Linked DNA regions of Homo sapiens: regions 1, 2 and 4 are each reported to be linked to region 3. The links are microRNA targets in miRTarBase. Many come from high-throughput screens and were not tested one by one. Region 3 holds a microRNA gene; each other region holds the end of a gene's coding sequence.

The links. The annotated mature microRNA hsa-miR-589-3p reads UCAGAACAAAUGCCGGUUCCCAGA and lies in region 3 at 2,035-2,058, shown strand. An mRNA with a match to its seed (bases 2 to 7 or 8) in the 3' UTR can be bound and repressed. Matches are read on the target gene's strand: a 7mer-m8 pairs with bases 2 to 8, a 7mer-A1 pairs with bases 2 to 7 and ends in A, and an 8mer does both.
Region 1: miRTarBase lists SPRED1 as a target of hsa-miR-589-3p. Seed matches in the 3' UTR shown: 7mer-A1 at 760-766 and 8mer at 1,006-1,013.
Region 2: miRTarBase lists NPAS3 as a target of hsa-miR-589-3p. Seed matches in the 3' UTR shown: 7mer-m8 at 1,831-1,837.
Region 4: the mRNA of LRIG1 is a reported target of hsa-miR-589-3p. Seed matches in the 3' UTR shown: 7mer-A1 at 1,769-1,775.

What each region holds. Positions count from the first base shown.
Region 1 is chr15:38,351,471-38,354,578 of GRCh38, forward strand. SPRED1 (sprouty related EVH1 domain containing 1) reads left to right here. Exons shown (of 7, transcript NM_152594.3): 7 at 1-3,108. The coding sequence ends at 194. Among named protein-coding and RNA genes, the nearest start is that of SPRED1, 100 kb to the left of the region's middle.
Region 2 is chr14:33,800,606-33,803,713 of GRCh38, reverse strand. NPAS3 (neuronal PAS domain protein 3) reads right to left here. Exons shown (of 12, transcript NM_001164749.2): 12 at 1-3,108. The coding sequence ends at 2,605. Among named protein-coding and RNA genes, the nearest start is that of SNORA89, 93 kb to the right of the region's middle.
Region 3 is chr7:5,494,784-5,497,891 of GRCh38, reverse strand. MIR589 (microRNA 589) reads left to right here and starts at 1,975; the gene lies at 1,975-2,073. The region is part of intron 3 of FBXL18 (F-box and leucine rich repeat protein 18); the gene reads left to right. RefSeq lists enhancers at 2,632-2,681, 2,752-2,831.
Region 4 is chr3:66,377,554-66,380,661 of GRCh38, forward strand. LRIG1 (leucine rich repeats and immunoglobulin like domains 1) reads right to left here. Exons shown (of 19, transcript NM_015541.3): 18 at 3,024-3,108; 19 at 1,244-2,936. The coding sequence ends at 2,710. It overlaps SLC25A26 (solute carrier family 25 member 26), which reads left to right. Exons shown (of 10, transcript NM_001379210.1): 10 at 137-1,370. The coding sequence ends at 254. Among named protein-coding and RNA genes, the nearest start is that of LRIG1, 120 kb to the right of the region's middle.

The DNA.
Region 1 (3,108 bases), not on the chromosome of region 3:
CAGACTCAGAGGGAGATTTTTCTGATCCCTGTTCGTGTGACACTAGCGACGACAAGTTCTGCTTGCGATGGTTAGCCCTGGTAGCTTTGTCTTTCATTGTACCATGTATGTGCTGCTACGTCCCTTTGAGAATGTGCCATCGCTGTGGTGAGGCATGTGGTTGCTGTGGTGGGAAACATAAAGCTGCTGGATGAAATGGTCCAGTGCCAAAATGAGCTTAAAATCTTTGTTTCCAGGAATTAGCTAACTTGGATTTGTGGAAGCTTTTGGCAAGCAATATGGAATCTTGCCTGGTATCATTGAGCCCACACATGGAGGAAGCAGAACTCATCAGTTCTTGGCGTTTCACGCCATGCCTAACTTTTCCCTTGAGTGCATGGCATGTTTTGTTACAGGTTGTAGAGTATTTGCAGAAGGAAACCATTTCTGGTTATTTGGCTATAAAAAGTCAGCATAAAATATGATCCAACTAAAAGGGATTAATTTTTGGCATTTTTGTATATTTATGCATTAGGTGATGGGACTTTTAAAGGTTTGAATTTATTAGGACACGAACTAAAAATAAAAGTGCACTAGGGGACAGTTGATTTCAATCTAAGAAAAGTTAACACTTGGGAATTACAAGAAGTAAAACAAGTGCAACTAAATCATTTATTAGTTGTTTTTTGAAAGCAGTTTTATGTATAAATAACAAATGTTTATATTTAACTAAATGTAAGGTACGAATTATTACATATTAAACTTTTCTTCCCCTTCCTAGTTCTGAAGTAGATATATATATATATATATCTACTGTCACATTCCATATATTTTGAATATTTAACTCATCTAGTTAATAATGTTTTTATTCCATGCGAATGATTTGATATTTTCATCCTTATTTCTCTTTGGCTACAATTTATATTGAGTTATATCTGTACATTCTGGTAATCTAAAATCCTTAAAAATACTCTAATAGCCTTGAGTGACCAACTTTTTTTTTAAAGCACAGATGTAATTGTCTAATGTTCTGATGGGAACGTAACACTTATTTTTATATAAAAAGAGACTGAGTAAACAAACATTATAGAAAAAAAGTGAAGTTTTTTAGTTGTTTTTTGTGGTATTCAACCAGCAAGTTGTTTTCTTTCAGAGTTTCCTCCTTCAAAAAGTTATATTGCATTTACAAATGTTTTACAAGGCAGAAAGTTTGACTGGATAGTTAGTGTAAAAGCTTCATGTTGAGATCTTCACGTATCATTCTGCTAAACCAGAATATGTTCAGCTGTGTTACTAATTTTTCAGCTTAATCCTCAGTGCTTATTATTTACATAACAATAACTTTTTATCAGTTACATTTTATTTTTATTTAAACTGGCCAAAAGCAAAATTATTTTATGTTAAAATGTGTGCTAAACTATCCCAGGAAAGTATTTAATCCAACATTGTAAATGAAGTATCTTGTACATATAAATTTATTTCTTTTGCAGAGCATTATATTACTGGATGTTTAATTTACAAAATAGTTGGGTAAATGTTCCAACAAACTTTAAAGTACCTTGAAGTCAAATTGTCTGTTTTTGTTTTGTTGTTGTTGTTGTTGTTTTCTTAAGTGTTACATTAAAACTCTAACCAAGGAAAGGGTTCTTTAAGAACATTCCCTTAGAGGGATAAAGTTGAGAAGTGTGCCTTTTTTTTAATGGCTTGAAGTTTCAGAGGTGATAAAAATTAAAATCACACTACTATTTGAAGCTCATTTTCTATGCAGGTTTTTAAACGTCATTTATGTATCATTCTTTTTATATATCACACTTAAGCTTGTGTTAGCTTTTTTCTTTTGCCCCAGATCAAACTGAACAATGTATATAACACTATCTGTCTGTAAAATACTTTTTTTAAGAAAGCATTTATATTTATATGACAGCTTGAACTGACAACATTGTGTATATAGATCATCTTGAAGTATTATTTCACATTGAAAAGAAGAAAATATATTGATAACTATAGATGTTATGAAGAAGAGGGTATTTCTAGTTTTGTACTAAAAATCAATTGGATGAACTAAATCCAAAACATGACACTGTAGGCAGCAGTTTTAAGTCTTATTTTTACTGTTTATATATTTGAATGCTGCTACAACAGATGATCTTCATCCCTGAAGTTTTCAGCTAAACTTGGTTTCCTAGAATAGACTGTTAACTTTCAAAATTTTTATTGGTGAAATGGAAATACTGTTTTTCCTTGTGAATGAATTTTCATATTTGTAAGTGCTAAGTTTATAATTCAGGTTTGATCAAGGTGTGAATAACTGAAGAAAATAACTTGCTGGCTATATAGGAAAATGCTGTGGAAATGAACTGTGTATATACTTCTGGGAGGAACAAATTTAATCATTTCTTCTGTTAAGCACTAATCAGTATAGTGCAACTCCTGGTTCTGTACTGTATTTTATATGCAACATATATGCTTTAATATTTTAATGTTTGTGCATTAATATTTTCAATTTGTTTAACCACTTTGCTGCTAAGATTTTGCCGTCCCATTCCCATTTTTTCCTTTACAATTTTAAACAAGTTTCTTCATTAAAAACTATGGTGATGAAATGGTTTTTATTTTACCTTGGATCTTTATAGTTAACATACCCAGTTTCTTAATCAGTCTACAAGACTAACTGATGATATAATGTTCTCTGAATCCCTATATGGAAATTTTCTTTTGAGTAAATGAGAATTCCTTTGTGAAAGCAAATGGGTAGTTTAAATCACTGATTCTTAAACATGTGTATAGGCACCTTCAGGAACATTTTCTCATTCTCTGTACAGATTCGGCACTGCCAATTGGCTTTTCCTCTAAAACTTTTCTTTGTTTTTATCTGATATAAGCAGATGGCTCAAGACAACTGCTTGAGTAATAGTATTGAAAATGGAATCATCTAGACGGCATGACAAGCAAGACTGGTCTGATGAACTTGTTCAGAATTGATAATTCTTAAATATTTCTCTTGGCTTCAAAAGGGACATCATTTGATTTCTGAAGAAGTATGTCGTGTGGAGCTTCAGCACCACCTACTGGATGATTTCCAGGCCAGAGACATGAGATGGCAATAGGGATCTGACAGGGTTCATCACT
Region 2 (3,108 bases), not on the chromosome of region 3:
TTTCATTTTGTAATTTTCAACACTATGAATTTAGACAGCAGCTGTGATTATCTGTTAGTTTAAATCACCAGAAATCATTTTGACACAACACAGAAACATTTATAAAAGAAAAAAAACAGCTGTCTAGCTGTTCTTTGTAGCTGATAGGTGCATTCCTTTGATTGTTCGATAGCTAGAGTAGAGCTTCCAAAATTAATCTGTAAATTTCTCCATCGGCCTTCTTCACCTCCTAAACCTACTTAAATCCTTCAAGTAAGCTCACTATTAAAATTTGTGGCATTTAACTTCTTTTTGTTATTATTCCACCACGGTTTGGGCCCAACTCATGAAATCAAAGGTCCTAGAGGAATCTACTCAACACAGTGATATTCAAAGGACAGCCGAGTTACTATATTAGCATTGCACAAGTAAACAAATATATATGACAATTCTAGATTCCATTATCCCCTCCCATTTTGTTTCTTAAAAATGTTGGTTGACCTTTGAAAGAATTTTCTGTCTCACTGGTAATTGCTTTATATATTGCTCCATCAGCCAACCTGAAAGGAAACCAAAGAAAAGCACCCACTGCTTATAGGTAGAGCACAAGGGACTCTGGGAATGTTAACAACTGAGGCTATATGGCATCAATTTATTTAATATATCTGAGCATTATTCTTCAGTGCTTTGTGTTGCACTCCAGAAGACAGAGTCATACCCAGAATTCCGTTGTGGGAAAAATGGCTCCATTAACCTTGAGCTAGTTAAGAGTCTTTTTATCTCTGAGAATGAAAGAGATTTTGGGGATGGGGAAGGAATGAAGAGGAGGGAGAGGGGGAGATGGGAAAGGGAGGGAAAGAGAGGAGAGGTAGGGAGAATATACACCAGCAAAGCAACAGCAGGAATTTTAAAAGGTAAAACGGAAGATTCACAGACAGTAGAAGCAGCATAGGGTGACATTACAGAGGAAGGCCACCACACAAAACCCACTAACCCCCAAGAATCACTGATTCACTAGGACTGCAGGAATGGGACTGTACCACTCCGGACTAGAGATAGAGCACAGATAAGACAAAGGACAAAACAACTACATTAGCTTAGTATATACTGCATATAGAAACACACATTGAAACTGCAATGGGACTGACAGCCAAGGACACATACACATTGTACACATTACAGTTCTCACATCTGTTATTAGATGCCTTAACAAACAGCTGCCAAAAATGAAGTGGAAGAAGAATTTATACTTGACAGTCATTTGGAGTGTTTGACACCACACTGATTTCTGGCAACAAAGACAAAATAGGATTTTTTTTCTTTTTCTTTTTCTTTTTTTTTTCTTTTTTTTTTTTTTTACTTAATGTGCAGTTTTCAGTTGCAGTTATCTGTCTGAAGCTTATTAACCCATTCTTTAGTTTTAAAACTTATTGGTTTCAACCCAGAAATAAGAACCAAAGGGAAAGAAATTCCATCAAATCAAACCAGTCCCCCCAAATACAACCTTCCTTTTTGTTTTAAGCAAGAAATGAAAAAAACCAAAAACATGTTAAATATTTTCCTTCTTTTACTCCGAAGTGTTATTGAAGTTGCAAAATTAGCCTCAGTTAGACTGAGTAAGGAAAACAAAAAGCTAAACAAAAGGCAGTATGTACCTAAACTGCTCCTCAAATCAGTTTGATTGAGTTTTCCAGCAGCCCCTTTAAAAGGGGCTTTACTGACCCATTAAATTTAATGTGAGGCTATGTTTGTTAGTTGGGAGGTAAAAAATTTTAAGTCCTGCAGCAAACGTTAATGAGGGCTTTGTCTTAACTAACCAAGGAGACTGCAGCAACGGACTCCAGACCAGGACAGAACACATTTTTTTTTTTTCCCCCAAAACCCAGCCCAGGAGCTGCATTTTGTATGAAGACATTACAGATTAATAAATGATAGCACCATGGTTTTAGAAATTAAGTTAATGTTTCAGTAATTAACATTTAGTCCGACTTTTTTTTTTTTAAACATTCTAGTCACAGGCCAGAAATTAAGTTTAAGAACCCAAATTATTTTTATGTGCAAGTAAGAAAATCTTAAAATCTTAACCGTAAAAAGAGAATTAAATTCTGCATAAAATTCTAAAATACTATTCCCCCTATTTTTTAAAGGAATTAGGAACAGAAACAAAAACCACCCTATTTCATTTGACTTAGTCAAACAGGGCACATTGTTTATGCTTGTCTCTTTCCATCTTGATCATATCAAGATCTTTATGAAGAAACCCCAATGGTTGTCACTTGAGAACTCTCTTGACCACAAGACTGAGTATTCTATGGCAGAGGCATATACACATGAAAGACATCTTAATAAAGATGCAAAGGAAAGCAAAACAACCCAACACACACCTTAGAAGAAGACAAAACGGCAGGCAACTGGTCGTCTGACCCTCTGAAGGCAAAAAATAAACATATCTTTACACGAAAGAATAAGTCAGGTGAAAGAAAGAGGGGGTGGAATGGGGACCGTCGTGGCGAGAGAAGACGCTGACCTGCTCGAATTCAAAGTGCTAGAATTAAAGGTCTAAACGAAAATGCCGACGATGCCTCCTCCAAGCGGGGCCTGGCCGGGCCCAGGACGGGCGGCGCCTCAGTCCTCCTTGCGCTCCAGAGTCTGTGCCGCGTGGATGCCGTTGCTGTAGACGGGGAAGGGCAGCGTGGAGAAGAGTCCCTCGGCCGTGGTGAACACGTTGCCGGCGGGCATCTGCGTCAGGCTAGCTGCGCTCACTGCGCCGCCGAACGGTCCTGACATGTTGAGCCGGTGCACGTGGTGGTAGAGCATCTCCATGGGCGTCTTGGGGTCGAGGCCAAAGCCGGGGCTGTTAACGTCCACGAAGTTAACAGCGTGCGCGTTGGGCAGCAGGTTGCTCTGCATGGCCAGGGTCACCTCGGCGGGCGCGTAGCGGATGGTGCCCGTGGTGTAGACCCTCTGCGCGGCCGTGCTGGTGGCGGCCAGGGTCCCGGTCACCCTGTGCACCAGCGGGAGCACGACGTTGCCCGCCTGCAACCTCTGCAGCGCCTCCAGGTCCCCAGTGTACAGCAAGGAGTTGGACGCGCTGGGGCCGCCGCCCCCCGCGCCGCCGCCCCCGCCCCC
Region 3 (3,108 bases):
GGCACGTGTCATTGTCCCCAGAATAGTTAGCATTCACCTTGTGCCTTTGCTGAGAGCCATGCACTGAGCCCATCCTCCCTGCCATAATCTGCTGCGATTGCAGCCTTGATCATTCCCATTTCCCAGATGAGGCTGTGGGAGCTCAGGGGGAGCTGAGTCTCTCGCAAACACCGGTGCTTGACCTTGGCCCTGGAGCCATGCAGAGTAGAGATAAGGGCGCCCCTTGTAAATCTCCCCTCTCCCGCAGAAGGCATGGCAGGAAGTGGCCGGGTCTGCTCGGGAGCAGCCGAGCTGGAGGCTCACACCCTGGAGTCCCCCGGCCATGCAGCCAGCTTGGCGCCACCCTCCCTCTCGACCTCCTCCCACTGCAGACCTGTTAGTGTTGGGTTGAGAAGCGCAGGATCAAACCCAGGACTTTCAAATGGCAGAGCAGATTGCTAGAAGCCTCTGTATTTCCTGTCTGGTGGAGTCACCAGGCCCTGGATCGGCCGCTTTGATTCTCAGCTCGAGCCACTGCGAGGCTCCGTGCGTGGGGAGCGGGGTGGTTATTCATGCTCTGACCCAGGCATCCTGGAGAACCAGGACGGGCGACTGCTTTGAGAACCAGACGGGCGACTTTTCAGAATCTCCCTGCTTTAGAAATTTGACGCAAAATGCATGTAAAATTTGGGCTTTCCCACTTTTTTTTTTTAAAAATGGTCTCATTCTGTCTCCCAGACCGGAGTGCAGTGGCATGATCACAGCTCACTGCAGCCTCGACCTTCTCTGGCTCAGGTGATCCTCCCACCTCAGCCTCCCGAGTAGCTGGGACTATAGGCACATGCGACCATGCCCGGCTAGTTTTTTTTTTTTTTTTTTTTTGAGACAGAGTCTCACTCTGTCACCCAGGCTTGAGTACAATGGCATGATCTCAGCTCACTGCAACCTCTGCCTCCTGGATTCAAGCGATTCTCCTGTCTCAGCCTCCAGAGTAGCTGGGATTACAGGTGCCCACCACCATACTCGGCTAATTTTTTTTTTGTATTTTTAGTAGAGACGGGGTTTCACCATGTTGGCCAGGCTGGTCTCGAACTCCTGACCTCAGGTGATCCGCCCACCTCGGCCTCCCAAAGTGGTGGGATTACAGGCGTAAGCCACTGTGCCCGGCCGCCTGGCTAGTTTTTTGTATTTTTTGTAGAGACGGGGTCTTGCTGTGTTGCCCGGGCTGGTCTTGAACTCCTGGGCTCAAGTGATCCTCTTGCCTGGGCCGCCCAAAGGGCTGGGATCACAGGTGTGAGCCACTGTGCCCGGTCCGGAGAGTCTGTTAAGTGTGGCCTCCTAGTTGATGGGCCTAAGCCAAGCCCTGAGTCCAGGCTGAGGTCTGGCCTGGGAGAGTTGCTTTGGCGTCCTCAGCTCATAGGTGGCCTTTAGCCACCTATGGATCCAGGTGAGCCCACGGATTGGGCTGGGGCACACGTGACAAGGATTGGCCAGGAAGAGGAAGAAGAATGTGGAAGGGAGACCGAGCAGAGGCTGTCAGCAAGGGAGGCACTGGCCGGAGGGAGGGGGTGTTCCGGAAGCAAGAGGCAGAGGTGACGGCAGCCACCGCGGGTGGAGGGGACCTTTGGGCTCATGTGACCTCTGCCAGGTGCTTTTCATGGGTGTACAGGTCTTGACCCCTTTGATATTCTCAACAACCTCTGAGTGTCGACACAGTTGTACCCACTTAATGGATGAAGAAAGTAAGGCCCAGAGAGTGCATGAACTTGCCTAGGTCACATGGCTGCTTGTCTCCGGCCTCCCGAGGTCAGCGTGATTTCATGGTCCCCGATGGCCTCCGGAGTCTGGGACGGAATCCCCGTGGCCAAGGGCCTTCCTCAGGAGCAGGGCCATGGAGAAGGCGCGGAGAGGCCTGCGGGTTCTGTGGGTTTTGTGGGTTTTGTGGGCCAGCCTGAGAGACCGACCCTGCTCATAATGCCATCTCTGTGGACAAACTCCAGCCTGTGCCCAGCAGCCCCTGAGAACCACGTCTGCTCTGAGCTGGGTACTGCCTGTTCAGAACAAATGCCGGTTCCCAGACGCTGCCAGCTGGCCCCGTTCCTCTGGATTCCTGCCTTCTGCGGCAAGGGAGCCCGGACGCTGCAGTGGAAGGAGCAGGTGGCACTCGCTTGCCCGTGGGCAGGAGCTGTGCAGAGGAAACGGCGCTGGGATCCCTGGAGGCTGGCACGATGCTCCGAGGCCGCATCCTGGGGCGGCCGGAGTCTCTTTGGTGGCAGAGCTTGGAATCCCACGCCAGCCACCTGCTGCCACTGGCAGCCCCCACACCGTGACCCCCAGCTTTGTGCTTGCTGGGGCTCCTGGCAGGGAGGGGGTGGTGCAGGAAGGAGTCGCTCTGGCTGGGACTTGGACACACCTCAGTAGTAAGGGGATTACAAATTGGGCAGAAAAGACACCTTCTTTCCCTAGACCAGCTAAGCCCTGCTTGCGGTGGAGGGCGGGGGAGCGTGTCACCCTGAGTCACCCGGGCTGCTGTGAGCGTGACCAGGGCAGCGTCTGGGCAGAAGCGGGCCATCCTTTTCAGAGCCAGGCCCCGGAGCCACCCTAGGGACACCTCGGAGGCCTGGGTGCTGCTCTCACGGCCCGTGCAGTGGGTGGCCAGATGGGAGCCCCCGCACTGTGAGCTCAGCACCTTTCATGCCCACAGAGTCACCAGGAGACCCAGGTGCCCCCTCAGGGAGCAGAATGGGGAGGCTGGATCCTCACTCAAAGGTGAGGCCCGGCGCAGTGGGAGCCTTTTCCTCGTCCCCATCCTCCCTGCAGACGCTGCCGGTCACTCGAGTCAGGTCAGCTCTGCCACCGTCCTGGGTGCCGTGCCCCAGGCGGCGTGCTGTGGGAGCCTAGGAAGCTTTAGACGTGCCAGGCCCGCTGCCTGACCAGTCACTCCCGTGGGCCTGCCACATCCTGAACACCTGTGACAGGTGACTTCCTCCGGGGCGGAAGAATGTGGATGTGGTTATCTCGTGGAAAAAAGGTTTTTTTTCCACGCTCTGCAGACTTGGTTTTTAACCCCAGAGGCTCGGGGCGATCTGGGGCGGGTAGCACGGAGCCGCATCGCCACCTAGTGACCAC
Region 4 (3,108 bases), not on the chromosome of region 3:
TTTGGGAGCGTTCACAAGCTGTTTGGTAGTTAGCCACTAATGAGCATGGTGTATTGAGCTGAGCAAGCTGTGGGTATTGGAATTTAACCTTTTTTTAAAATACGCACAACATTAAAAATCCTGTTTTTTCCCCTAGATTATTTGCAGGTGTCTTCCCTCGAATGGCAGCCATCAGTCTGGGAGGTTTCATCTTTCTGGGGGCTTATGACCGAACGCACAGCTTGCTGTTGGAAGTTGGCAGAAAGAGTCCTTGAAGCAGAGACAAGCCTCACCTCCACTTCTGTCAAGAGAGGGGCCTGCAGTGCAAACCCTCTTCCGCTGAGCAGCTGTCTGAACTATAGGCCCCAGTGCTGAAGACCAGTTGTGCTAAGATACCGGCATGGAGATTGTGCCATCCGTGGTATAGGCTGGCTGGTATGAAGTCATTGGCCTGTATGCCAGAGAGCTAAGAGAAGAAAACGGGGTCTGTGGCGGTACTCTGAACAATTTCCTCAGAACCTCTTAATAAATAAGTTTGGTAATGCTGAGGCCAGGCCTTTTAGAGCTTTCATTTGATCTGTATCTGATCTTTCATTTCCTGCCACCTGATGGTGGATTCAGCAGAAGGCAAGATGGTTATAATTCTAAAAGAATAGCTTGTTTGTTTGTTTGGGAAAAGGAGACTTGGGGAAGAGTTGTGTATGTGGGTGTTTCTCCCCCTAGTTAATTCCTGTTGTGTAAGGGTAGGCTTTGTTGAAAAAGAAAGAAAGATTGAACTACAGGTGCATAGCAAGCACTCTTTCTGGGTAACTAGGCTGCTGGTTTTAATTACCCTCAGATTTCACCCATAAAAACGCACAATTGTATTATTTTACAGAGATGTGTCCAGCGCCCCCTGTGGTGTGTGAGAGAAAGCAGCTGCAACTCAAGTGACTAGGTGGGCCCAGCTGGCTTCGTGCAGGAGGGCACGGTGGGTGAGCCATTCTCGCCATTCTCATGTCAGACTGAAAGGAGGGCCTGGGCCAGCTTTGAAAAGGCAGGATGAAATGGAAAGGTCACCACACTTAGGGATTTTAGACCTTGACTAACAAGCTCCAGGTGTAGAAAAATTCAAAACAAAATGTCAGGAATCTAGCAGTGTTGTCTGCCCTGGAGCAAACAAACAGTATGTGATTTTGCTTCGCCTATTTTTTTTTTCTTTTTTGGGGGAAGATAATTAAAGGCAGAATGACTGCGTTTGTAAAAGAAGGACCACCAACTATACTGACATTTATAAATGAACCTTTATTAAAGACACTTCAATGCCATTTGTTAGACACTTCAATATTTTACATGGTTTTCAATGTACACTGTACCAAAATTTCTATAAATAAATAACTTTGTACATAAAAGTAATACTCCCTCTTTCACATTGCCTCTCAGAAGCAGCAAATTCACATATTTTGTGGAAGTAAGATTAGTCAGTTAACTGTCAAGAACAAAATTCTAAATGTGCTTACCTTTTGAACAGTGATGACACCTGACAGTAATTGTTAACTATTTTCTCAGTAACTCCCTTCAGCTTTTGGCCAAAGGAACATTTGAAGGACCTTGTTTCTATTTAAGTTTTACTAAATGACACATTGGCACTCATAAGATGGTTAGCTACCAGTCTCAAAAGTGCAAATTATACCCAGAACCCAGGTCAAGGGCTGTCCTTTCCAGTCCCAGCTCAGTTTCATCTGTGCGAAGGAATGGCATGGACAGGCCTGCTCTGGGTCCTTAGTAGAAATAAGGTAGCCCTGAAAAGTCAGAACTTCCTCCTTTCTGTCCCCCAAGGCCAATGTAATACTCATTATATTGGCAAAACGAAAACATCAGTATAGAAAAATCCACAGGTACCAACACCAGCAGCCTTTACCTTAATTTAAAAGTCTCAAATAGCAATCGAATGATACTGAGAAGGCCACATTTGCTTTTATCATAAAATAAGAGGAGGAGGAAAGGCAGTGTTTAACTGTTCTGACCTTTTGCTTGTGATGGATTAACAACCCTCATTCTACGCCTTACAGACGGACAGATTCTACGCCTTACAGACAGACAGGACTTAAACCTAAAAGGAAAAGCCATTCACTGCAAGTGTGGATGGCACTTGCACCCCTGGCTCTACAGACAGGGAAGCCTGTTGCAGGGGCATCCACACATGAGCAGTGCTCACCTGAAGCTCCTTCCGGCGCATGTGGAGTCCCACCGCACAGCAGCCTAGGGGTCTATGAAGTGCAATATAAATCCAAGGCCTTCCATCCTTCCCACCCCGCACCAAAAACTCCTGTGAACAAATGTGGTTGTAGCCTCTATAAATTCCAGCCATGCGTTAAGGCACCAGAACTATTTCCCCACCCCCTCCAAAATTAAACAGCAACCTGATACGAAAAATAATATTGTCAAAATTGTATAATTTTTTTCTGTTAACCATGCACTAAAGATTAAAATAGCCTCTGTAAAAGATATATATGAAATCTCTGAAAACTCTTATGTACAATGATATCAAATACTTTTTTTGCCTTTTGTACACAAATCCCCTCTTGCGTTTACTGTGCTTCAGATCCAAGTCCTGTGAGCGACTGATACTCCACATGGGAGTTACAACTATGTACAGATGAGTGACGCTTGAACCCAAGCTTCCTCGCAGCCTCTCCTACCTCTCTTTCCCGTAGAGATTGGTATGACAAGAACTGAGGTAGACAAAACCTAGCTTTTTGGTGCCAACAGCAGTGGCACCCTCTGTTTCCCGGGGAGCTGTCCTGTCAGTGGCGTGGACTCGGGACTGGCGTCACATGCTTTGGGGAGGTGGCCATTGGAAACAAGCAAGTACTGGGCTTCCGCGCGCTCTGGACTGCCTGAAGTTAATGAAGATGCAGGCTGTAGCTCTGTGGAGTCCGGGTGATACAACCTTGCTAAAGTCCAGGAAGAATCCCCTACAAGGAAAGAACGAACCTGTCAGACCCCCACTTGACCGTTTAAGCAGCTCCCAACCCACCTGTTAGAAGACAGTCAAAAGTTACCTTTCCCATCTAGAGATGCCATTGGCTTTTTCTTCACAGCCGTCAGCATTCTATCGTGGTTACTGGGGTAGAGCGACCCTTGGCA